7 linked regions of the Homo sapiens genome follow. The protein of the gene in region 2 interacts with the protein of the main gene of each other region in a biochemical or structural test. Each region holds a gene or a part of one and is shown on either strand. Other genes may lie near its edges. The genes, in order: KCNV1, PDLIM1, PLEKHA2, MAP4, HCN2, PALLD and ABCA2.

The links.
Region 1: the proteins of PDLIM1 (region 2) and KCNV1 interact in a test that uses a peptide from one of them, tested with the Homo sapiens proteins (one large-scale study listed by IntAct).
Region 3: the proteins of PDLIM1 (region 2) and PLEKHA2 interact in a test that uses a peptide from one of them, tested with the Homo sapiens proteins (one large-scale study listed by IntAct).
Region 4: the proteins of PDLIM1 (region 2) and MAP4 interact in a test that uses a peptide from one of them, tested with the Homo sapiens proteins (one large-scale study listed by IntAct).
Region 5: the proteins of PDLIM1 (region 2) and HCN2 interact in a test that uses a peptide from one of them, tested with the Homo sapiens proteins (one large-scale study listed by IntAct).
Region 6: the proteins of PDLIM1 (region 2) and PALLD interact in a test that uses a peptide from one of them, tested with the Homo sapiens proteins (one large-scale study listed by IntAct).
Region 7: the proteins of PDLIM1 (region 2) and ABCA2 interact in a test that uses a peptide from one of them, tested with the Homo sapiens proteins (one large-scale study listed by IntAct).

Annotation. Positions count from the first base shown.
Region 1 is NC_000008.11:109,963,136-109,965,771, forward strand, and holds the end of KCNV1 (potassium voltage-gated channel subfamily V member 1), read right to left. Parts: 3' UTR 501-2,636; downstream 1-500. UniProt on the Homo sapiens protein: Potassium channel subunit that does not form functional channels by itself. Modulates KCNB1 and KCNB2 channel activity by shifting the threshold for inactivation to more negative values and by slowing the rate of inactivation.
Region 2 is NC_000010.11:95,284,504-95,288,003, forward strand, and holds part of PDLIM1 (PDZ and LIM domain protein 1), read right to left. Parts: intron 1-3,500. UniProt on the Homo sapiens protein: Cytoskeletal protein that may act as an adapter that brings other proteins (like kinases) to the cytoskeleton. Involved in assembly, disassembly and directioning of stress fibers in fibroblasts.
Region 3 is NC_000008.11:38,942,846-38,946,345, reverse strand, and holds part of PLEKHA2 (pleckstrin homology domain-containing family A member 2), read right to left. Parts: intron 2,558-3,500; coding exon 2,509-2,557; intron 223-2,508; coding exon 125-222; intron 1-124. UniProt on the Homo sapiens protein: Binds specifically to phosphatidylinositol 3,4-diphosphate (PtdIns3,4P2), but not to other phosphoinositides. May recruit other proteins to the plasma membrane.
Region 4 is NC_000003.12:48,009,917-48,013,416, forward strand, and holds part of MAP4 (microtubule-associated protein 4), read right to left. Parts: intron 1-3,500. UniProt on the Homo sapiens protein: Non-neuronal microtubule-associated protein. Promotes microtubule assembly.
Region 5 is NC_000019.10:610,381-613,880, reverse strand, and holds part of HCN2 (potassium/sodium hyperpolarization-activated cyclic nucleotide-gated channel 2), read right to left. Parts: coding exon 3,476-3,500; exon of another isoform or gene 2,727-3,475; intron 1,003-2,726; exon of another isoform or gene 634-1,002; coding exon 393-633; intron 30-392; coding exon 1-29. UniProt on the Homo sapiens protein: Hyperpolarization-activated ion channel that is permeable to sodium and potassium ions. Displays lower selectivity for K(+) over Na(+) ions. Contributes to the native pacemaker currents in heart (If) and in neurons (Ih).
Region 6 is NC_000004.12:168,895,552-168,899,051, reverse strand, and holds part of PALLD (palladin), read right to left. Parts: intron 3,460-3,500; exon of another isoform or gene 3,300-3,459; intron 2,504-3,299; coding exon 2,453-2,503; intron 560-2,452; coding exon 338-559; intron 1-337. UniProt on the Homo sapiens protein: Cytoskeletal protein required for organization of normal actin cytoskeleton. Roles in establishing cell morphology, motility, cell adhesion and cell-extracellular matrix interactions in a variety of cell types.
Region 7 is NC_000009.12:137,011,238-137,014,737, forward strand, and holds part of ABCA2 (ATP-binding cassette sub-family A member 2), read right to left. Parts: coding exon 3,453-3,500; intron 3,168-3,452; coding exon 2,931-3,167; intron 2,802-2,930; coding exon 2,595-2,801; intron 2,327-2,594; coding exon 2,224-2,326; intron 2,082-2,223; coding exon 1,765-2,081; intron 1,689-1,764; coding exon 1,475-1,688; intron 1,354-1,474; coding exon 1,248-1,353; intron 1,140-1,247; coding exon 1,028-1,139; intron 926-1,027; coding exon 865-925; intron 782-864; coding exon 607-781; intron 513-606; coding exon 397-512; intron 318-396; coding exon 170-317; intron 73-169; coding exon 1-72. UniProt on the Homo sapiens protein: Probable lipid transporter that modulates cholesterol sequestration in the late endosome/lysosome by regulating the intracellular sphingolipid metabolism, in turn participates in cholesterol homeostasis.

The sequences.
Region 1 (2,636 bases), on a different chromosome or scaffold from region 2:
CCAATTTAATACCAGGAAGGAAGAGAGGGGCACTAGAGTTGAAAAGGCAAGCAAGGGAGTGATTATAATATAATATAATATAATATAATATAATATAATATAATATAATGTAATATAAGCACAGTGAGAACATAAGGATGGTGAGTATCCAGGTTTCCCTGTCGTCCCTAAAAACGTACCAGGTAGGCAACTGCCGTTGATGAGTAAAGCTCTCCCTGTGTGACATTTGTCTTCCTTATATTAGTATGGCTTGGAGAGAGTTCTGGGGTGGTGATGCTTTGCAAAGAAAAATCATGAAGGAGATCATCAGAACACATCATTTGCCTGCTATCCAATATCTTGTTGGATCTGAACTGAAGGATTCATAAGACAGTTATTAATGGCTAATATTTCAAAAGAAGAGACTTTTCTTGTTAACATAATGTATCAATAAAAATATTTCTCAAAGTATTAAGCTTATCCAATGACAATGTTTTGCTTAGATAAATTGGGTCAGCATATATATTTTCTGCAACAGCTAATCAAAATATTTTAATAAGCATAAGAATTCCACATTAAAACACAGAACTGAGATTCCTACCTCAGTTATTTTTGCATCTAATCCATTATACTTGATACTACTTTGCATTAAAATGATAAATGCAACAATTTCTTGTATGTTATAGAAATAATATATACATAAAATAAAATATGAATATGTCACTCTTAATAGAGATACCTCAGTAATTTCTTAAAATTGCTTTTTTAGGTACTTAAGCATTGCCTATATGCATTTAAATGTCTGAAAGTAGTGTTTTCTAACAGGCAAAGATTTCATGATGAAGACACAAAAGGTGGTTGCAACGAAAGCAAAAATTGGCAAATGGGATCTAATTAAACTCTAGAGCTTTGTCAGAGCAAAGGAACCTATCAACAGAGTGAACAGACAACCTACAGATTGGGGGAAAATATTTGCAAACTATACATCTACAAAAGTCTAATATTCCAGCATCTATAAGAAACTTAAACAAATTTACAAGAAAAAAAAATCCCATTAAAAAGTGGGCAAAGGATATGAACAGACACTTTTCAAAAGAAAACATACATGCAGCCAACAATGATATGAAAAAAAGCCTCAATATCACTGATCATTAGAGAAACGCAAATCAAAACCATAATGAGATACCATCTCACACTAGTCAGAATGGCTATTATTAAAAAGCAAAAAAAAAAAAGCAGATGCTGGCGAAGTTATGGAGCAATTGGAACGCATATACACTGATACTGGGAGTGTAAATTAGTTCAGCCATGTGAGAGTGTGGCAATTCCTCAAAGACCTAAAAACAGAAATACCACTGGATCCAGCAATCCCATTAATGGGTATATACCCAAGAAATATAAATTGTTTTATTATAAAGATACATGCACACGTATGTTCAATGCAGCATTATTCACAGTAGCAAAGACATGGAATAAACCTAAATGCCCATCAACTGTAGACTGGATAAAGAAAATGTATGTATACACCATGAAGTACTATCCAGCCATATGAAAGAATGAGATCATGTCATTTGCAGGGACATGGATGGAGCTGGAGGCTATTATCCTTAGCAAACTAATGCAGGAAGAGAAAACCAAATACCACATGTTCTCACTTATAAGTGGGAGCTAAATGATGAGAGCACATGAACACATAGAGGGAAACAACACACATTGGGGCCTATCAGAGGGTGCTGGGTAGGAGGAGGGAGAGAATCAGGAAAAATAACTGGTGCTAGGTTTAATACCTGGGTGATGAAATAATCCGTGCAAAAAAACTCTCATGACACAAGATTACCTGTATAACAAACCCGCACATGTATCCCTGAACTTAAAATAACAGTTAAATTAACAAAGAAAGTGGCTAACACGGTGAAACCCCGTCTCTGCTAAAAATACAAAAAATTAGCCAGGCGTGGTGGCGGGCGCCTCTAGTCCCAGCTACTCGCGAGGTTGACGCAGGAGAATGGTGTGAACCCAAGAGGTGGAGCTTGCAGTGAGCCGAGATCGCGCCACTGGCACTCCAGCCTGGGCGACAGACGGACACTCCGTCTCAAAAAACCAAACCAAAACAAAACAAAGAAAGTAGTGTTCTCTAAATAGCTTAGAGAAAGACAATAATTCAATTATTTTATATTTTAAAAAATTAAATATTGTTTTATAACAATAATTCTTAGATGTTTAAAAAGTGTTTACTGTTTTAAAATAATGGGTTATAAAATTGGCAGAGTTCCTGCCTTGATTTTTTTACCTAAATGAAATTTGGTTTGCTTATATATACATTCATTGAATAAATAAAATGATATTTTATTTAACAGCAAAATTGAGTAAGCAATGATATTTTAAAACTTCTTTCTGAAGACCTACATCTTGACAACATTTATATAGCTAACAGCACATTTGTAGAGAAGATGTTTAGGATCCTCCATGATAAAAACATATATACATATGTATACACATAGTTTTTAATTTTTTTTATTTCCAACTACTATTTACTCTAAAGATAATATATTTTTAATCTAATAATGACTATAAGGTGTCACCACAGCCTTTTCTTAAAAGCACCATTCCACCTCTGAGAATAAGCTGATATTTTACTTAAGGCATATTGAACTTCT
Region 2 (3,500 bases):
CCACTACGCCTGGCTAATTTTTGAATTTTTAGTAGAGACAGGGTTTCACCATGTTGGCCAGGCTGGCCTCAAACTCCTGACCTCAGGTGATTCACCCACCTTGGCCTCCCAAAGTGCTGGGATTACAGACATAAGCCACCAAGCCCAGCCTCTGTATGCATTTTCAATATCTTTATCTAAACTAGGTCCTATCTATGTTCTTATTGTCTTACTTGATACGAATGGTCGTGTCTATAAAAATTAGTCCCTGAGTGTTCAGTAAGGAATCTGGCCTCCTACAAGACCGCTGTGTTCTTCACAAAATCATTTTTAGTATTTATGGCATTTACCAAGGAGACAGTGTATTACACATGGGAAAGTGCACCACAGAACTCAGCCACGGATGAGCAGCCCAATTTGCCCAGGATGTGGCTAACAAGAGTATCAATAATCACACAGGGTGCTAACAGCCATACAGGAATTACCTTTTTTGTCTTAGGTTTCATGGGTATATTCGGTTTTGGACTTAGCTTGGCTACCGCAAGGTGGAACTGTTCACTGCCTGGTCATCTTCATCTACCACAAGAACCATTCCCAAATGCCCTCCTATCCCCCACAAGCAGGTCTTTCTCTAGCCAGTCCTTCCACTCCTCTGCTCTTGTTCTTCACTGTCCAAGTGGGCATGGAACCTCATAACTGGACTGTAAATTCTCCCAGGTGGGGCCATGACTTTCAGTTTTTCAGGAGGGACAGGGAAGGGAGGTGCTGCTTTCTGAGGTGCTCTGAGCTGAGGCCACAAGGCAACTGGAGAGCCACCCCAACCAACCTCAGGAGAATGAGAGGCTCCAGGGTGTGGAGCCCAGGAGTGTCTTATCCCTCATGTTGAAGCCTGCACCACCCTTAGCACTTTTCAGAGCTGTGTGCTGGGTTAACACTGTTAGCAATGAAATATTGACAGTTATGGCTTATTAGGAGGCAGAATATAGTGGTTAAAGCTGGCCTGGAAGTGAGTCTGCCTGGCTTCACTTCCCAGCTCTGCAATTGTCTGACTTTGTGTTCTGTGTCCCTCTGTCATGGGTTGTGGGGAATACAGAAGAAGATAATGTAAGTGCATGCTTAGCACAGAGCAGGCACTCAAAAAATGTTAGCTGTTATTAATATATTACTATGACATAGAGATTAAGACTACAGGCTTGGAAGCCGGACTCCCCAGCCAAACTCCAGCTCTACCACTCACTGCTATATGATGCAGGCAGTGTACTTAAGGTCTCCAAGCCTCAGTTCCCTCATCTGTAAAATGGGGATCTTAATCCTACCTCACAAAATACGTGTGAAGATCACTGAATATATTATGGTCTTAGAATGGTGCCTGGCATATTAAAAGTCCTATATATGTTTTAACTATGGTTATTACTGCAAGCAGATCAAATAAATATTTCTCACACAAATCTTTCAAATGTAAATGGATGCTGCTGTGATTAACAGAAGACAAATACATCTGAAACATTCCTGAAATCACAGTGTTTTCTAAATCAACTTATGATTGAAGGTACAACTAATGCCATGAGAGACTAGGACACTCTAACAATAAAAAAGTGGGCTCTTGGCTCATGCCTGTAATCCCAGCACTTTGGGAGGCTAAGGTGGGCAGGTCACTTGAGGCCAGGAGTTTGAGACAAGCCTGGCCAACATGGCGAAACCCCATCTCTACTAAAAATACAAAAATTAGCCACATGTGGTGGCTCATGCCTGTGATCCCAGCTACTCAGGAGGCTGAGGCACAAGAATCGCTTGAACCCAGGGGGTGGAGGTTGCAGTGAGCCGAGATCATGCCACTGAACTCTAGCCTGGGCAACAGAGCGACACCCTGTCTCAAAAAAAAAAAAGTAGCTCTCATATTCAAAGGGTATGAAAACCTCTGGGTTTGCTTGCTTATTATTTTATTTTATCTTTACAGGGAATATTATTTTATTTTATCTTTACAGGGAACTGAACCCAGGAGAAGACATATGATTTTCCCAGGATCACCCACCAAGGTGCTCCGGACTAGAGCTCAGCTTGAGTCCCTGCCCTGGACATTGTACCAGGCCCTCAATTAAAGTCCTGGAAGCTTCCCCCAGGCTTTCCTCTGAGACCTACTGGAAGCGAAATAATCCTTTAAAAGTTAGTTTTCTGACACAACCACTTTTGCTCCAGTCTCTATCCTATCCTTTACAAGGAAGTTGAGTAGTAAGTCAGCCAGTGAGAAATTATGTAAATTCAACCAAATTACCTAACCTGTGAGCACCTGAGCTTTTCTGTTTGCAAAAGGCAAAGAATGCTAGCTTTCCTCTCCTCTGTGGAGCAAGAGTTAAGGCATGGCCTAAGAATGTGCCAGTCCTATCCTGATCCCAGTACACAGCAATTCCTTGGTGCTTTTCCCAGTCCTGGTCAGCCTAGGAGAATATGACCCAGACGCTTAGATGACACTCTCCTCTCAGTCATCTACCTGGCTGCAATACCCTAAAGCCACTGTTCTTCCCTCTTGCCTCCTCAAACAAACCAGCAAGGTTGGCATCAGGAGTTTAGGGAGGGGAGACTATCTGGTCAGAGGGTGATAATGTAGTATGGGCTCAGGCATTCACTTACATGTCATTCTCTTTGGTTTGTCCTCTTCCCCCTCTCTCCTTAAGTCAGCTGTGAGCAGCTGAAGTCGCTAATATTTCCCAGGTATCAATTTCACAGACCAAGGGCATGCAGCACAATGGCCATTAAAACATAATGACCCTTTTTGGACATTTCCTGCTTTTCATAATCTGACAGACAAACCCTTCTCTTTCAATCTTTACGACATGATGTAAAATCTATCTGAATCCGGAAATACCACTCTTAAAAATCAGAAATGACCCTCTGGCCACAGTAACCATTATTAAGCATCCCTTGGGATACTTGAGAAAAAGCATAAGCATTTGCCACAGAACCGCTCAGCTCTTAGCAAAGGGTTCCCCAGGACTCCAGAGACAAATGAGCAACTCCTCCAACTAAGGGCATCCCTTGATCTTGGCCTCACCCTTTCCTGTCTTTTATCAGTTGCTGGGAGAGAAAAACAGTCAACATAAACTGAGTTGCAATGTTGGCCTGGGTATTTCTCTGAAGGCTTCCCTTGAAAGTAACTAGAGGGAAGGAGAAATTAACATGGAAAATTTTTTTAATTAAAAAAATACCTCAAGGAAATGGGCAAGTGTTGATTTGAAGCAGGAACTGACAGAAAAAAATATCAGAGAACAGTGGCAAATGTGTGGCTGGATCATCAGGGAACACAAGGCAAGAGCACTAAACGAGAATGTGGGTAAAAGAAGCTAGCCTATGTCCACTTAAAGTTGGAAACCTGGGTTGAAATTTTAAGTTGATAACGATACTAGATGAAAACATTAAGGAGCTAAAGAAGCTGTTCACACACACACACACGTGTTCTGTATGAGTCTGTTCAGAAACAGGCAAAATTAAGCTATGGTATTTGGGATACCTAATTTAGGTGGTAA
Region 3 (3,500 bases), on a different chromosome or scaffold from region 2:
GGGTACAGACCAGGCTCCTGGGAAAGTCCCCGCTGCCATCTCAGTTTTCCCCAACCCCAACAAGGCCATAGCCTGGGAAGAGGCACTTTTACTACCACCAGAAAACAGAAGAAACCAAACTTACGGTGATCTTGCTGGCTTGGTTCAGGGCTTCAACCCAGTCCTTCATATCTTTCTGATCATTGGCTTGAAGGAAATATCTCTGAGACAGGGCATTGATAACTACAAAAGCCACAGAAAAGAAGGGAAGACATTCCTAGGTCAGAATACAAGCAATACAACAAGTCTCCACAAAGCTAAGGTGTTTGAGGGAGTGAGATGAGTGAACTCCACAAAGCAGAACAAGAAATCTCCCATGATGCTAAGTCATTTGCCTGGATATCTAGGAAGCCCCAGGCCACACCTGCTCACTCTCTTTCCCACCTTTAAAAACATCCCATTGGCCACAGGAACAACACCTGACCATGTTAACAGCAGCCTCAGTGTGCTGTTCTGCGGTGATGAGGCTGCTGGTCTGCCGTCAACAAGACACAACTGTGAACCGCATTCTGGCGGTGCTAATACATTTACTGTCATCACGGTATATACAGAATTTTGGACCCATGCTTGGTCTCCTCTGGCACAACTGGTCTGGACTGGGAGAGTTGTCTGTGGTTGGGAAATAGAACAAAGCTTTCCTGAGATCAAATCTGTGACCTTGGCCTCACTCTCAACCTGTTCTTTCCTCTGAGCATTCCATTAGGTCAACAATTTACTTCCACATTCACTATTATTACATATATATATTTTCAGATCTGATAACCACAAAACGTGAGAGTCATTTCTGAGCTTAGCTATGAAATTTGCAAGAAATAGAAGAATGAGCATGCCAAAGAAGTCTGAACAAATCTGAGGTGGGGAGACAGAATCGCTCAAGGGAATACTTTATTCTCTTAGCATAAGCTTGAACTGTAGGAGGTGAGTCTCATGGGGTAGATGCAGAATTCATCCGTTCATTCATTCATTTGACAAATATTTACTGAGCACCTACTATGCGCTAGGAAACATCTTTAAGTGCTGAGGATACCACAGTGACAAGGCAGAGGAATACCCCTGCCTTTGTGAAACTTACATTCAGAACCACCCCAGATAGGCAACAGAAACTATTTGTTAGCATTTGCTCATAGCACTTAGCACAGCTGTGAGAACATAGTAGGAGCCAAGTAACTATTTGATGATGGATTCACTGAATTCACTGACCACTTCCTGACTTGAGGCACCCATGCACGGTGACTCTGCCTCCTACACCATCCCCCAACATGTCACTATTGGGCAACTGAGACCCTTAACAGAATTCTCCTTCCTTTGTCTTATCCCCTTCCTGGCACTGCCATCTGCGTCTCCTCTGAGTCCTCCATCTTTTCTGAGCACAACATTTCTCAGCTCTAAAATAAGGTTCACAGAAACTTATAGTGGACATTTTGCACCTGCCTTGTGGCATCAAGAAAACTGAAATGCATATGGACAATTATTAAAAGAAAAAAATGTTCGAGATGATGGACATTGATATGGTTTGGATCTCTGTCCCCACCCAAATCTGTGTCCCTACCCAAATCTCATGTTCAATTGTAATCCTCAATGTTGGAGGTGGGGCCTGGTGGGAGGTGACTGGATCATGATGGGTCGTGGGGGCGGTTTCTCATGGTTTAACACCATCCCCCATGCTGTTGTGTCATAATAGTGAGTTCTTGTGAAATTTGGTTATTTAAATATGCATAGCACCTCCCCACTCTCTTTCTTGCTTCTCCTCTGGCCCCATAGAGCCTGCAGAACACTGAGCCAATTAAACCTCTTTTTTTTTTCTTTTTTTGAGGTGGAGTAGAGTGCAATGGCCTGAAATCAGCTCACTGCAACCTCCGCCTCCTGGGTTCAAGAGATTCTCCTGCCTTAGCCTCCCGAGTAGCTGGAATTACAGGTACTCACCACCACGCCCAGCTAATTTTTTTGTATTTTTAGTAGAGATGGGGTTTCACTATGTTGGCCAGGCTGGTCTCAAACTCCTGATCTCAGGTGATCTGCCCGCCTCGGCCTCCCAACGTGCTGGGATTATAGGTGTGAGCCACCAGGCCCGGGCAAACCTGTTCTCTTTTTAAATTACCCAGTCTCAGGTATTTCTTTATAGCAGTTCAAGAACAGACTAATATAGATATGCTAATTACTCTATACATTATGTACCCCATGAATATATATAATTATTATTTGTCAACTTAAAAAATAAAACTAAAACCAAAAAAAAAAGAAAGAAAACAGAAATGTTACTAGTCCCTGAACCTCTGTCCTTATGTTATTAACAACCTTTGCAGCAAGACCAGGGAAAACAATATCACTTGACGTCCAGGACCGTCACTGTGATTTAAGTCACTCATACTCACAGGGTATAGTCACATGTGATCACAGGACTGTCTCCATGCAAAAGAGGAAGTTGCCATGTCAATATTAAATGAGTCCCTCCCCTGGCTCAGTACTTACCAAAGCAAAATGGAGTTTTTGGTTTCTGTTTTGGGGTAGCTATGCTCACCTAAATCAAATAAGAAATAAAAGAAACATGAATATGTGTCTTACAATGTTGAAGATTTCTTATTGTGAAATTTCTCATATATAAAGAGTACATTAAACATATGTCTACATTTTTAAAAAATAATAATTAAATGAAAACCCTGTACTCATCATCCAGATTAAGAAACAGGCATTATCAGTCCTATTTCTTAGAAGCCCTGTGTGCCCCTCCCTGACAGAATCCCCACCGTCAGAGATAACCATTATCTTGAGGTCTGTTCATCTTTACAAAAAGACTTATGTTTATTATTTATTTATTTATTTAGATATAGGGTCTCACTCTGTCACCCAGGCTGGAGTACAGTGGTGCAATCATAGCTCACTGCAGCCTCCAACTCCTGGGCTCAAGTGATCCTCCAGTCTCCACCTCCTGGCTAATTTTTTTTAAATGCCCCTATGCCTGGCTAGTTTTTTTTAAAAAAGAAAAATATTTGCAGAAACAGGGTCTTGCTATGTTGCCCAGGCTGGTCTCAAACTCCTGGGCTCAAGCAATCCTCCCGCCTCAGCCTCCCAAAGTGTTAGGATTACAAGTATGAGCCACTGCACCCAGCTCAAAAAGACTTTTAAAAGCCACTAAGTCCTGACGAAAACCTATCCTGGCCTCATTCACACTAGCAAGATTCCCCTCCTCCCCTCCTCTTTCAACCGCCAACCCTCTCCCTAAATCGTTCTCCAAGCTGAAGGCAATATTGCTACAAATGCATGGATTCCAATCAGAACACTCAGAGAGATGAAGCAGCAGGCTGCTCGCTGCCCTCAGACACATGGAACAATTGCCTTTACATCTGCCCTGATGGCCTAACCATGAAAATAAGCACCTTCCAGGTGCCCAGAGAGGGGCTGATGGAATCGGAGAACATTCCTATATATCTCAGGGAAGGGCAAGAAACAGAGGAGGTATTTCT
Region 4 (3,500 bases), on a different chromosome or scaffold from region 2:
TGGGCTCCTCCTCCCTTTAAGTCAACAGGCTCAGAGGGGGAGTTACAGTGTTGGCTAAGGTGACTGACCCAGACTATCAAGATGAAATCAGTCTACAACTTCACAACGGAAGTAAGGAAGAGTATGCATGGAATACATGAGACCCATTAGGGCATCTCTTCGTATTACCATGCCCTGTGATTACTGTCAATGCAAAACCACAACAGCCAAATCCAGGCAGGACTACAAATGATCCGGACCATTCAGGAATGAAGGTTTGGATCACTCCACCAGGAAAAAAACCCATGACCTGCTGAGGTATTTGGGGAAGGCAAAGTTAATACAGAATGGGTAGAAGAAGGTAGTCATCAATACCAGCTATGACCACGTGACCAGCTGCAGAAATGAGGACTGTAACTGCCATGAGTATTTCCTCCTTCATTTGTTAAAAACATGTTTGTGTATGTATACACATGTACTAATATCTTCACTTTATATTTCCTTTTCCTTTATCATGTGACATAAGATTTATTGATTTCATAACAGCATTTAAGTATTATTAACTTTATGTAATAGTATTTGGGTTGGGGATTGGTGTGTTTCTGGTTGTATGAAGGATAGTTTTATTACATTAGGTGTAATTATGACCTTATTATTGTCTTTATTTTAAGATTACATACGATCTCAGATGTATATGGGTTCAAGTTGACAAGGAGTGGACTTGTAATGTTAATACTGTCAACTTGATTGGACTGAAGGATGCAATATTGATCCTGGGTGTATCTGTGAGGGTGTTGCCAAAGGAGATTAACATTTGAGTCAGTGGGCTGGGGAAGGCAGACCCACCCTTAACTGGGTGGGCACCATCTAATCAGCCACCAGCGAATATAGAGCAGGAAGAAAAACATGAAGAGATGGGCCTAGCCTCCCAGCCTATATCTTTCTCCCGTGCTGGATGCTTCCTGCCCTCGAACATCGGACTCCAAGTTCTTCATTTTGGGGACTCGGATTGGCTCTCCTTGCTTCTCAGCTTGCAGACAGCCTACTGTGGGACCTTGTGATCACGTAAATCAATACTTAATAAACTCTCCTTTGGAGATATATCCTATTAGTTCTGTCCCTCTAAGAGAATCCTGACTAAAACAAGTAGTGTGGGGCTCGTGACAAAAACTGATAGCTTTGCTGCCAAAGGGGCTCCTGTGGCATGACAGAGCTGTTGTCCACAGCAAATGCCATCTCACACTACTGGAATTATAAATTCCACTATTTGAATAACCACTGCCGAATTCAGGATTTAGCAGCTTTTCTGAAGGAACCATAAATAGGAATTCAATGGTTCCTATAGTAGGAACTGGACTTGGTAATCCCAGCCTGTAATCTCCCAGCACTTTGGGAGGCCAAGGCGGGTGGATCACTTGAAGCCAGGAGATTGAGACCAGCCTGGCCAACACAGTAAAACCCTATCTCTACTAAAAATACAAAAACAGAATAACTAGCTGGGCACTGATTTTTATTATTTAGATGGTATGCACCTGTAATCCCAGCTACTCAGGAGGCTGAGGCAGGAAAATTGCTTGAACCCAGGAGGTGGAGGCTGCAGTGAGCCAAGATCACGCCACTGCACTCCAGCCTACGTAACAGAGCAAGACTCCGTCTCAAAAAAAAAAAAAAAAGTTCCTATAGTAGTAGTGGCACACCTGTGACCCATTTACAACAGACGAATGTGGGTGGGAAGCCCTATTCTATGCTCGTCCAGCCTACTTTACATATAAAGTATTATTGTAACTCCAGATCATGACAGGGAAAATGCTGAGAAATGAGTTCATTAAAGAGCTTTTAAAAGCCTAACAGATTATAATGTCAAAGGGTTCCATGAAAAGCAACTATTCAGTTGCTTTTACTATTCGGTTATGCCATTTCCCTATTCTATCTCTGACAACTATTATTAGTAGTTATCCTTTGGGAGCTGTTATGAACCAAAAACTAAAAAGGACGTCTGTAACTAGTTTTGATAGAGGCAAGAGGCAAACAAATGTCTAGGCAGACAGGGGCGGGTCCTCAGTGAAACCCGAACTTTAATCCGGAAACTGTCCTGGGTAAATCCTGAGATCGGATTAAGAACCTGCCTTCCCGTTTGGCATGATTGATCCCCATCCTTCACCTATTTAACCTGTACCTACCCTTTCCTAATTGGTTTTCTACACTGTCCTGCCCACCTTGGAGTGGTGTCTTCGCTTTGACCTTTTTTGCATACTCACAAACCAATGACCACACACTCCCATTCTGAACCAATAAAGAGCCCCAGGCTCAGCCATATTACGGAACTTTCCTGTCTTCAGGTAGTAGAACCACCTACCATGTTCTCTCTTTTTGCTAAGAGCTTTCCTTTCGATTAATAGATTCTACTCCACTCACTCTTTGATGTCCACGTGCCTAATTCTTCCGCTCCTGAGATAAGAACCTGGACCTAGTTGAGCTAAGGAGCAAAAATCCTGCATCAGTTTCATGGTCAAAGAGAACTTAAAAGGACATCTGTGCCATCCTTAACAACATACCATAAAAATCCAAAATTTAATTTTCCCCAGAAATACATAATGACATAAGATGCAATCTACTCAAATCTTTTCCTCATTTAAGGCACAGGGTAAAAATACAGTCAAAAACACCAATACATTTTAAATATCATTTATCAGAATGCAGATTATCAAAGGGCAGCTTTTATCCATTGTAATCTTTCCCCTATCCAACCCTCAGCACCCCCACCCCGCCCCCAGCCACACACTCTCAGATGACTTCCTGGGCTGCATGTGGTTCATGGAATATGAACAGTAGCTGAAATTCAGCCTAAGAGGGTAAAACTGATAGAAAATTATACAATTGGAAAGTGGGAAGGTCATGAAGCTATGAGCACATCTAGCTAGCCACTTAGCATCTGTATTTCATCAACAGTTAAGCTATTCTTTACTTGTCACCACATAAATAGAATATGATTTTAAAATACACACACACACCCCCTTATGGAAAATGATCCTAGAAAGGTAATGCTAGTGTCATCTTTCAAGTTAAAGTACTGTTGTTTTTTTTTTCCCAGAAATCCCCAGTTTTCAATAAATTAAAGCGATTATCCAATTTTATAGTTATTTTATTCTGAAACATGTATAAGTACAATACACTCTTTAAATGCTCTATAGATGTTAAACTGGTTCAAGTATTCCAAAATTAATTTTAATAAATTCATGTATGAATTTCATCTCACACAGAATCACTTGAAGTTACTTACTATTCGGTTATGCCTTAAATGCTTAGTTACATATTTTATGGATAAAAGGATATGACACTATTATTTTCAAATCTGGATGTTCAGGAGGATCAAAAAATGAACCCTTGTGAATGAGAAGCATTTACTCTAAAAAAAAAACCTCTCACTGACCAATTGACCATTTATACTATTCCTCTTCTATCCATACAGATAATAAAGTTAACTTTAAATAGATTTGTGAGTAAGAGTCAAGAGAATTTGA
Region 5 (3,500 bases), on a different chromosome or scaffold from region 2:
GCGGCGGCCCCGGGTGAGCAGGCAGATCTCTGCACGTGGCGCGCAGGGGGGGGTTGCTGGACGAGGCGGGCGCCGCGGCCCTCCCCGCCCAGGCACACGGCCCGGCCTCTGCACCTTGGCCAGCGTGGGCGCTTCCCACCCAGGCTCTCCCTGGTGCCGGCCCCGGCCCCATCCCCGGCCCCATCCCCGGCCCCATCCCCGGCCCCATCCCCATCCCCGGCCCCATCCCCATCCCCATCCCCGGCCCCATCCCCATCCCCATCCCCATCCCCGGCCCCATCCCCATCCCCATCCCCATCCCCGGCCCCGGCCCCGGCCCCGGCCCCCTGGCTCTGCACACCGCGGGGGTCGCGTGCCCCCTCCCCCTCCAGGCGCGCCCCCCTCAAGCTCACCCCCGAAGTAGGAGCCATCGGACAGCTTCATCTCCTTGTTGCCCTTAGTGAGCACGCTGACCACGCCGTGCTGGATGAAGTACATCTTCTTCCCGATGGTGCCTTCGCGGATGATGTAGTCACCCGGCTGGAAGACCTCGAACTTGAGCTTGGTCAGCATGGCCGTGACGAAGTTGGGGTCGGCGTTGGCGAACAGCGGCATGGAGGCCACCAGCTTCCGGCAGTTGAAGTTGACGATCTCCTGCAGGGGGGAGGCAGGGCTGGGTCCGCTGCGGACCCCACTCCCGCTTCCCCCTCGCCCTGCCTCTGGGACCGGCTCACCTCTCGGACCCCAGTTTCCTCGTCTGAGAGACGGGCTCAGCCCCGTAGCCGGAACCGAGCTGCTGCCGCCAAGGACGGGAGAAAGAAAAAACGCTCAGTGCCCCTTCGCCGTTTGACACCGTATTGGCGACATCTGCCAATACAATCGGACCAGGAGGGGCGGCTGTAGACAAGAGCGGTGGAAAGGAGGCCGGGTGCGGGGGCTCACGCGTGTGATCTCAGCATTTGCGGAGGCCGAGGCGGGAGGATCGCTTGAGCCCAGGAGTTCTAGACCAGCCTGGGCAACACGGTAAGACCCCCGTCTCTACCGGAAAAAAAAAAAACAGCCAGGCGTGGTGGTGCAGGAAGTCGAGGCTGCAGTGAGCCGTGATCCCCACACCACTGCCCTCCAGCCTGAGCGCAGAACAAGACCCTGACTCAAAAAAAAAAAAAAAGAAAATGGGGGAAAAATAAGGCCGGGCGTGGTGGCTCACACCTGTAATCCCAGCACTCTGGGAGGCCAAGGTGGGTGGATCGCCTGATGTCAGGAGTTCGAGACCAGCCTGGCCAACATGGTGAAACCCCATCTCTACTAAAAATACAAAAAATTAGCTGGGTGTGGTGGCGGGTGCCTGTAATCCCAGCTACTCGGGAGGCTGAGGCACGAGTCTCTTGAACCCGGGAGGAGGAGGTTACAGTGAACCAAGATCACACAACTGCACTGGAGCCCGGGTGACAGAGCGAGACTCCATCTCTCTCTCACACACACACACACACACACACACACACACACACCAGTGGAAAGCTACATTCGGTCAGACTATCAGGTGATTTTTGAAAAATCAACATGAAAACCAAGGGTCTGGAGATGAATCAATGGTGTGGGAAGTCAGGGCAATTCCCCTTAGCAAAGGCAGCTTCTAAGGACGGCAGGAACGTTCCAGCTTCGTTCTGTGTGGTGGTTACACCACGTTCCCTTTAGGGACCAGCTATCGAGCTGTGCCCTTATGACCTGGGGCACTTTTTGGTACTTTTTTTTTTTTTGAGACGGAGTCTCGCTCTGTTGTCCAGGCTGGAGTGCAGTGGCACAATCTCGGCTCACTGCAACCGCCGCCTCCTGGGTTCAAGCGATTCTCCTGTCTCAGCCTCCAGAGTAGCTGGGATTACAGGCGCCCACCACCACGCCCGGCTAATTTTGTATTTTTAGTGGAGACGGGGCTTCACCATGTTGGCCAGGCTGGTCTCGAACTCCTGACCTCAGGTGATCTGCCCGTCTCGGCCTCTGAAAGTGCTGGGATTACAGGCGTGAGCCACCACGCCTGGCCATATGTGGGTTTAAAGATTTGACTTTGCAACTCCTAAACACCTAAATAATGACTAAGTAGCGTGGGTTGCCAGGGGCTGGGGACGGGGAGTGAGCTGGTGACTAACACCCCAGGTCTCCTTTTGGGCCCATGAGAATGTTCTGGAGTGAGGCTGTGGTATCGGGTGCAGCACTCTGTTAATACTAAAAGCCACCGCATTTTATGCATTTTGTGGTCTGAGTGTTATATCTCTACAAATGAATGAATGGAAACCGTAGTCATCAAATGCAATTAAACATTCTTGGCGAAGCGAACCGCAGTGTGTGCCTCCTGGGAGCAACGGGTGTACACGCCCCCCCAGAGGCATTCCCGGGGCCCGAGGTCCCTAGTGTCAGGCCCGTCCTGCCCGCCTCCTCGCCCAGCTCCTCCAGCCCCTCCTCGGGGCCTCTGCCCGAGCCAGGTGCTACACCGGGGACACCCTGCCTGGCTCACACACGGCCTTGCTGATGTCGCCTCCCCGTCCTCGTCCCTCCCCGCTTCCCAGAGCTGCTCTCTGCTGCCTGCGTGATCACGGCCGCCATCCCTAGGCCCCGCTTCCTGAGGGTGGGACCTTCAAGCACACGGCAGGGCACGCAGTCGGCGCTCAATAACTGTTTGATGTGTGTTGTGGGTTGAACTACATCTCCCAGAAAGACAGGCTGACATCCTGACCCCCGGTTCCTGTGAATAGGACCTTATGTGGAAATAGGGTCTCTGCAGACATGGCCCAGTTAAGGCGAGGCCACGAGGAACCGGGTGGGCCCTGATCCAACGACGGATGAATTTACAAGAAGAGACAGAGACACACAGGGGAGAAGGCTGTGAGCAGATGGAGGCAGAGATCAGGGAGATCAATCTGCAAGCCAAGGGCGCCTGGAGCCCCAGACGCCGGAAGAGGCAGGAAGGATCCTCCCCAGGGGCTCCGGGGGGGTAGCACGGCCCGGCCCACGCCTTGATGTTGGGCTTCCGGCCTCCAGGACGGTGGGAGGCCGAATCTCCGCTGTTCAAGCCACTCAGCCTGTGGGTATTTGTTCCCGCAACCCTGGGAAACTTGCCCAGGGTCACTCAGGCTACCGGAACAGAGCTGGGAGTTAAACCCGCTCCAATCAGCCTCAGTGCCCCCAGGACCTGGTGCTCAGCGGGGCCTCTGCGGCTCCTCCCTCCCCACCCCCTGCCCTGCTTCTGCCCCGCCCTGTCAGGCACAGACCCAGGCAGTTCTGCTAAGGGGGCAGCGGGAAGCAAGGCGGGGGTGGCGGGGGTCCTGGGGGTGCAGAGGCTCACGGGGCGGGGAGGGGAGGGTGTGTACGCAGGTCTAGCTCGAGTCCCTCCTGCTGCAGCCTAGGCACCTCGCCTCCCTCAGGGACCGGCTCCTGGGCTCCAGGAGAGGGAGGCCGGCCCTGTACCGGAGGCTGCCTCCCGCCCGCCCGGCGCCCGCCTCACCTCCCGCAGGGGCCCGTTGAGCTCG
Region 6 (3,500 bases), on a different chromosome or scaffold from region 2:
CACCAGCTCTCTGACCTTGGAAACTCACTTCACAGAACTCAGTTTAGTTATTTGTGATTTGGGAATAACAACGAGGAATAAATGATATAGGTGTGTGAAGAGCTCCCTGTTAGTTATTCTCTATTCTTCAAACCCAAACTCCACTCCCCCCACCACCTTTTTTGGTTTCTAATGCCTCCTGAAGATGGCCCAGAACTTAAGAATATTTAAAACCCTTTATATCGTGGGTATTGAGAAAGATCATTTGTATCTCTTTCTCCTACTGGCATGCTATGTTTTGGAAGCTAAACCTTTCCTCAGAGAATGACTCTTAAAAAGCCTCCATCTCCCAGCTCACCTTTGGCTTTGGATTTCCAGCCACTCTACATGTGAAAGTTACTGGCATTCCCTCAAAGATCTTGTAATGTTTCAGCTTCATCTCAAAGAATGGTGCCATTCCATTTTCCACAGGCACATCTCCATACTGAACTTCATCACCTGATTCATCCACAGGAGACCTTTCTAGCCTGTACTCTATTTCACTGATGAGTCTCTGTTCACAGCTGGAGACTTTGTATTCCTGAATCAAGGAAAGTTTAAGTTAGCAGACTCAATCCCTTCTGACAAAGTGTCACGTCTCTCCCTGCCCCCCAATAAGGCCCTAGAAGACAGTGATATTTTTACCATACAGCTTAAAAACACAGTCTGAGCCCAATTCAATTGCATATGAAACAAAAAACATCTGGAAGTGAGTTTATGTGGTATTTCAGATTGTCTTCAAGTCCTATCATCCAAAAAGAGGGGGGTAGGAAAGATGAATTTTTTTTTCCTTCTTTTCTCTGAGGCGAGGGGAAACAAGGGGAAGGAAAGAAAAAGGCAAAAGCAAAGCTATGTATTCCTAAACTGTTGATAACAATAAAATATAATGGAACGCTGATTTCCTTCTGTAGGGTAAAAGCTGATGCAGGGTGGTACATCTCTCCACATAGTACATGTGGCAAGCAGCTGCCATATTATATACAATTATAGTAAAAGAATAATAGAAAAAATGGTACTAGAAAAAATGGTAATAGAAAAAATAGTAAAAGAATAATAGAAAAAAAAAAATGTTTGTTTTTTTTCCCCCACCTCTAACAATCCCTGCCTTGCAAGGGCCGCCTCCTCAGCTCTGCAGCTGTTAGGAACCCACCATCTTTAGAAGAAAAAATAGGACTGACAGTCTAGCCAAAATTTTGCTTTAAAAAAAAAAAACAACCCATCAACATTCCTGTGGTGATTACGGTGGATCCTACAATTTCCTTGCCTACAAAGTGCATTAAAGGCCAGGTACAGTGGCTCATGCCTGTAATTCCCAACACTTTGGAAGGCCGAGGTGGGAGGATTGCTTCTGGCCAGGAGTTTGAGACCAGCTTGGGCAACAAAGTGAGACCCCATCTCTACAAAAAATTTAAAAAGAACAGTAGCTGGGCATGGTGGTACATGCCTGTTGTCCCAGCTACTTGGGAGGCTGAGGTGGGAGGATCACTTGAGCCTGGGAAGTCGAGGCTGCAGTGGGCCGTGATTGTGCCACTGCACTCAAGCCTGGGCAAAAGAGTGAGACCCTGTCTCCAAAACAAAAAAGTGCAATGAAGACAAGGGAGTCTATGTAAATATTCCCTATTTAATATTAAATGAAAGATAACTTTAACTATGTTTTCTCTTAAAGAAGTTACTCAGTGTTTAAAAAACAAGTTTGTTGGTTTGAGGGAAGAAATACAACAGTATGAATAAAACTGCAAGAGTTATACCACAAGTTGTTTTGCTTCATCTAATTACTATCAAATTAATCCCTTGAAGAATTAGCACTTTTGTTCCCCATAGAAAGGTATATATAACAAATGAAAAATTTTTCTTGATTTAATGTTCAGAGTATCCACTAATGACAGAATTAAATTCAAGTCAGAGGCCAGGCACTGTGGCTCATGCCGTATTCCCAGCGCTTTGGGAAGCCAAGGCGGGTGGATCACCTGAGGTCAGAAGTTCGAGACCAGCCTGACCAACATGGTGAAACCCCATCTCTGCTAAAAATACAAAATTAGCCAGGCATGTTGGCATGCACTTGTAATCCCAGCTACTTGGGAGGCTGAGGCAGGAGAATCGCTTGAACCCAGGAGACAGAGGTTGCAGTGAGCCAAGATCACACCATTGCACTCCAGCCTGGGCAACAAGAGCGAAACTCCATCTCAAAATAAATAAATAAATAAATAAATACATAAAGTAAAAATAAATAAATAAATTCAAGCTGGTAAATACATGACAAGAAAACTCATGTTGCAGTAATTTTGTGTATCTGATATTAAATGAAACAGACACTGGTCATAGCATTTATAATTAATATATGGCAGAAAAGATAGAAACACACGTAAAACAGGAAGAACAGAAGAAAACAGACACAGAGAAAGACTGGAAGGAGAAGAAAGGTGAAAAGCTTAACCTTTTGACCATCCAGAGGACTCCCTACAGAAGCATGAGGAGAACCAATGTCCTGTAATGGTAGAAAAAAAGATGTGAAGACTAATAATAGAAATAATAAGAATGCAGCAAGATTTCTAATTTTCCTTAAGTGAAACTTTTGTGCTAGCAATATGCGTTTGGTAGTAACGGTGCTGTGAGTACTCACACAACCATTCTGCTTCTCACTTTTGGTACAGGACTCCATAAATCACATGAGATATTCAATACTTTATTTTAAATAGGCTTTGTGTTAGATGATTTTGCCCAACTGTAAGCTAATGTAAGTGTTGTGAGCACATTTAAGATAGACTAGGCTAACCTAAGATGTTCAGTAGGTTAGGTGTATTAAATGCACTTTTTTTTTTTTTTTTGAGATGGAGTCTCGCTCTGTCACCTGGCTGGAGTGCAGTGGCACGATCTTGGCTCACTGTAACCTCTGTCTCCTGGGTTCAAGCGATTCTCATGTCTCAGCCTCCCGCGTAGCTGGGACTACAGGCGCACGCCACCACACCCGGCTAATTTTTGTATTTTCAGTAGAGACGGGGTTTCACCATGTTGGTCAGGCTGGTCTTGAACTCCTGACCTCAGGTAATCCACCCGGTCTTGGCCTCCCAAAGTGCTGGGATCACAGGCGTAAGCCACTGCGCCCCGCCTTAAATGCACTTTCAACTTACAATATTTTCAACTTATAATGAGTTTATCAGGACATAACCCCATACTAAGTTGAAGAACATCTGTATATATGTGAAAGAAGATAAAGAGATAATATTTTCTATTTTATTTTGACTAGATATTAAGACTAAACAGTTGATCTTTGAACAACACAGGTTTGAACTGCATGGGTCCACTTATATATGGATTTTCTTCCGCTTCTGCAACCCCTGAGATAAGCAAGACCAACCCCTTGTCTTCTTCTCTTCAGACCACTCTAATTTAAGACAATGAGGATGAAGACCTTTATGATGACCCACTTCCACTTAATGAATTGTAAATGTATCTTCTATTCCTTAAGATGTTCTTTGTAACAT
Region 7 (3,500 bases), on a different chromosome or scaffold from region 2:
CCCGTGGCCCAGGTTGTAGTTGGGGAAAATGAGGAAGCAGCTTTTCAGGTAACTGTTGACAACCTTCAGGTCCTGCGGGGTGGCCGGGGTCAGGGGCACAGGGGTGGCCGGGGTGAGGGGCACAGCCTCCGCAGGGTCCGCCACCCCCACCATGTCGTCACCGCCCCACCTTGTCGTGCTCGAAGAGCTGTAGCAGGAAGGTGGCCACGGTGGCGGTGATGCCGATGAAGAGATTGATGACAATGAGGAACACGTAGGCGGAGCTGGGGACCTCGAACCAGAAGGAGGCCGGGTACATGATGGGCGTGATGGACCACCTGCGGGCAGGTGGCGGGCAGTGGTCACCAGGCAGCCCCGGTCCCACCTGAGGCCGCTCCCCCCTCCGCTTCCGCTTACCCATAGAGCAGGAAGAGGGAGAGGACGGCAGGGAAGTTGGTGGGCGACGTGTAGGCCGGCAGGTCGAACACAAACAGGATGATGACACAGCAGGTAGCGGGGACCAGGTAGTTGAGCTGCAGGGGTGGGGGCGGCTGGTGAGAGACCCGGGGCAGGGCGGGGATGGGGGATGAGAAGGGCCGGGGCACCCCATGGCCACGCCGGGCGCACCATGTCCCACACGTAGTTCGCCAGCCAGTAGATGATGGGGTTGCAGCCGCTGACAAACTGCAGGTGCTTGGCCTTGGTGGACTTCTCGGCCACGAGGAAGACAACGAAGCTGGCCGGCACGAAGGACATGGCCACGATGATGAAGATGGCGATGACGACATCCGTGCCCTGCAGCCTGGGGCAAGGAAGCCCTCAGTCCTCACGGCCGGGGCTGCAGTGCCCACCTGCCCCACCTCATCCCCCACTGGCCACACTTACAGGTAATCCAGGGAGAGGCTGGCGCTGGTCTTATTCATGGGGTGGTTGGTGACGGTGATGCCTGCACACGGCGGGGCGGGGGCGGCAGCTTCAGGCCCCAGCTCCTCCCCGCCCCGGCCCCAGCTCCTCCCCGCCCCGCCCCGCCCTGCCTATGTCAGCTCACCGTAAGCCGCCGGGTTGCCCTTGCTCTTGGGCAGGTTGGCACGCAGGATGGCGTTGTTGAGGCTGTTGAGGTAGGTGGGCATGCTGTGATAGCCCTTGTTGTTGTAGAAAACCTGCAGAAGGAAGAGGACACAGAAAGGCCCCAGGACCTCAGACCTGGGTCCCTGCAGACCTCGGGCGGCGCTACACACAGCGGGGCCCAGGCCCGCAGCCTCGCTCACCTGGGCAGCCCTGCGCACCGCGATCTTCCGCACCATGGGTGGGGCCCTGGTGCCAAATGAGGCTGGGATGGACTTCAGGACGTTTCCAAAGGTGATGGCCCCATACCTGGGCAGGCAGGTGGGAGGGGCGGTGAGGCTAGGCAGGCAGTGAGGCTAGAGGGGCAGGAGTTGAGACTAGGTGGCTGGTGGCCGGCCACCCTCACCCACAGCCTCCCCACCCAGCTCACCGGTGCAGTCGGAAGCGGTCGGAGGTGAAGAGCAGGTACTCAGAGACATTGTGGCCGGTGATGTCGGTCAGGATGTCGCCTGTGACCACCCGCATCTGGGGCGGGTGCCCGCCCACACTGCTGGGGCAGGAGAAGCCGGTGCCCTGCGCAGAGCAGGTGCAGCGGACGGGCTCCCGTACCAGGCGCGGCAGGGAGGGTGCCGACGTCCACATTTCTGTGGGCACAGCATGGTGCGGTGAGAAGGACCCCTCACTGCCCCTGCCCCCCCAGCAGGCCCCCTGAACCACTACCTGGCCCAGCGGTGGGCGGCAGGGAGACGTTCCAGGCCTGCAGGTCCTCATCCGGGGACGCTGGCGAGTCAGATGGGGCGGGCGAGGGTGGGGGTGGCACGAAATTGGACAGTGGCAGCCCCTGTGTGAAGGACTCCAGACACATGCTGTCGAAGAACCGAGCCGCCAGCAGGCGCGACTCCCCGCTGCTCAGGTTCAACGTGGGCCCCAGCGAGCCGTTGGCGGGAGACTTGAGCACGCAGGTGGCACCCACCCCCGACGGCAGCCGGAACGTGCTCACGAGCTGCTGGGGGCTGGCGTCGGGCGATAGCCGCAGCCTGCGGGCACCGACAGTGTGAGGTGGGGCTGCCAGTCTCCGCCCCTCGCCAGCCCCGCCCCCTCGCCCGCCTGGCCCACCAAGGCTGTCCCCGCCCCTTCACTCGCCCCACCCACCAAGGCTGCCCCCGCTGGAGGCCTCACCGGTACTCGCGGCGCTCCTCGTTGGCGTAGGGGATGAAATTGCCACGGGGCTGGGTGTAGTTGTGGTACTGGGAAGGTGACAGGACCAGCGGGGGCAGATCACCTGGCAGGGCGAGCAGGGAGGCCTGAGCAGGTTCTGCCCTCTGGCCAGCGGCCCCCAAGCCTCGGTCCCCTTCCCCCAACCCCAAGGGATCCACGCCTGGGGTCTGGGACCCGAGGAGACAGGACTCCCGGATGAACCCCGGTGCGTGCCCAGCCTCAGGTGTGGGGTGAGGCCCAGAGTCAGGAAGCTCAGGAGTGGGCATCATCAGGGCTCCCAGCGGGCGGTGGGGGGAGGCAAGCCCAGCACCCCTGTCCAGCCGGTGGCCTACCAATCTCCGGGACGGACAGGGCCACGGTCATGGCCACGCAGACGAAGAAGGCTGGCAGCAAGATCTGGGAGAAGAGTGCCTTGGAGTTGCGGCGGGCGCAGTGGAAGCGTTTGACCAGCAGCCCGTGGAACTGGCGCACCTTCAGCCACCCGCCGTCCAGCTTGCGGCTGCCCTGGCCGACCCTCGACAGGGCCTCTGCCTCCACCTCTGTGCAGAGAGGTAGAGGCTGAGCAGGTGGTTGCACGCTACCCTCTCCCTACTGGCTGCCCTCATGCCGCTCCCCCGCAACCCTGCTCCCCCTCCCTTGCTGTCCCAGCCTCACCCTGCCACCCCCACCTTGCAGGCTGACATTGTCTGGGTCCTGTGGGTTATCAAAGAGGGGGCGGTAGTCGCCATAGACGTCGGTGTAGCCAGCTCCCTCGTCGCCACGGGCAGAGCCCACAGATGACGCCGACTGCAGCGATGCCTGCGACTGGGTCAGCTCCGAGCACCGGGCCAGATTGCCAGCGTGACCCTCCCCAGACGCCGGGCCCTCCGCCCCAGGGAGCACATCCTTCCTGGACTCCTTCACATCTGCCGCAGTGGAAGGGCCGAGGGGACACTCAGGGCTACTGGCCCCTAGGCCTGCCCAGGACCCCCATCCCCGGTCTTGACCCCAGTTCCCAGGCTCATACACCTGTCCGGGACCTCTGGCCACCAGGACCACCCACCTAGGACCGCAGGCTAACCCCGGGGCGTCCCCTGGCTTCCACCCAGGACCAGGGTGGCGCCCCCAGACACCAGGCAGGAGTGACAGCGCAGGCCCGAGCTGGGGCCTTGTGGGTGGGGTGGGCTGAGCAAGTGGTCCAGGCCCCTCACCGGCCTCACTGTTCTCCAGCGACTGATCCTCCTCCGACACCTTGAGGA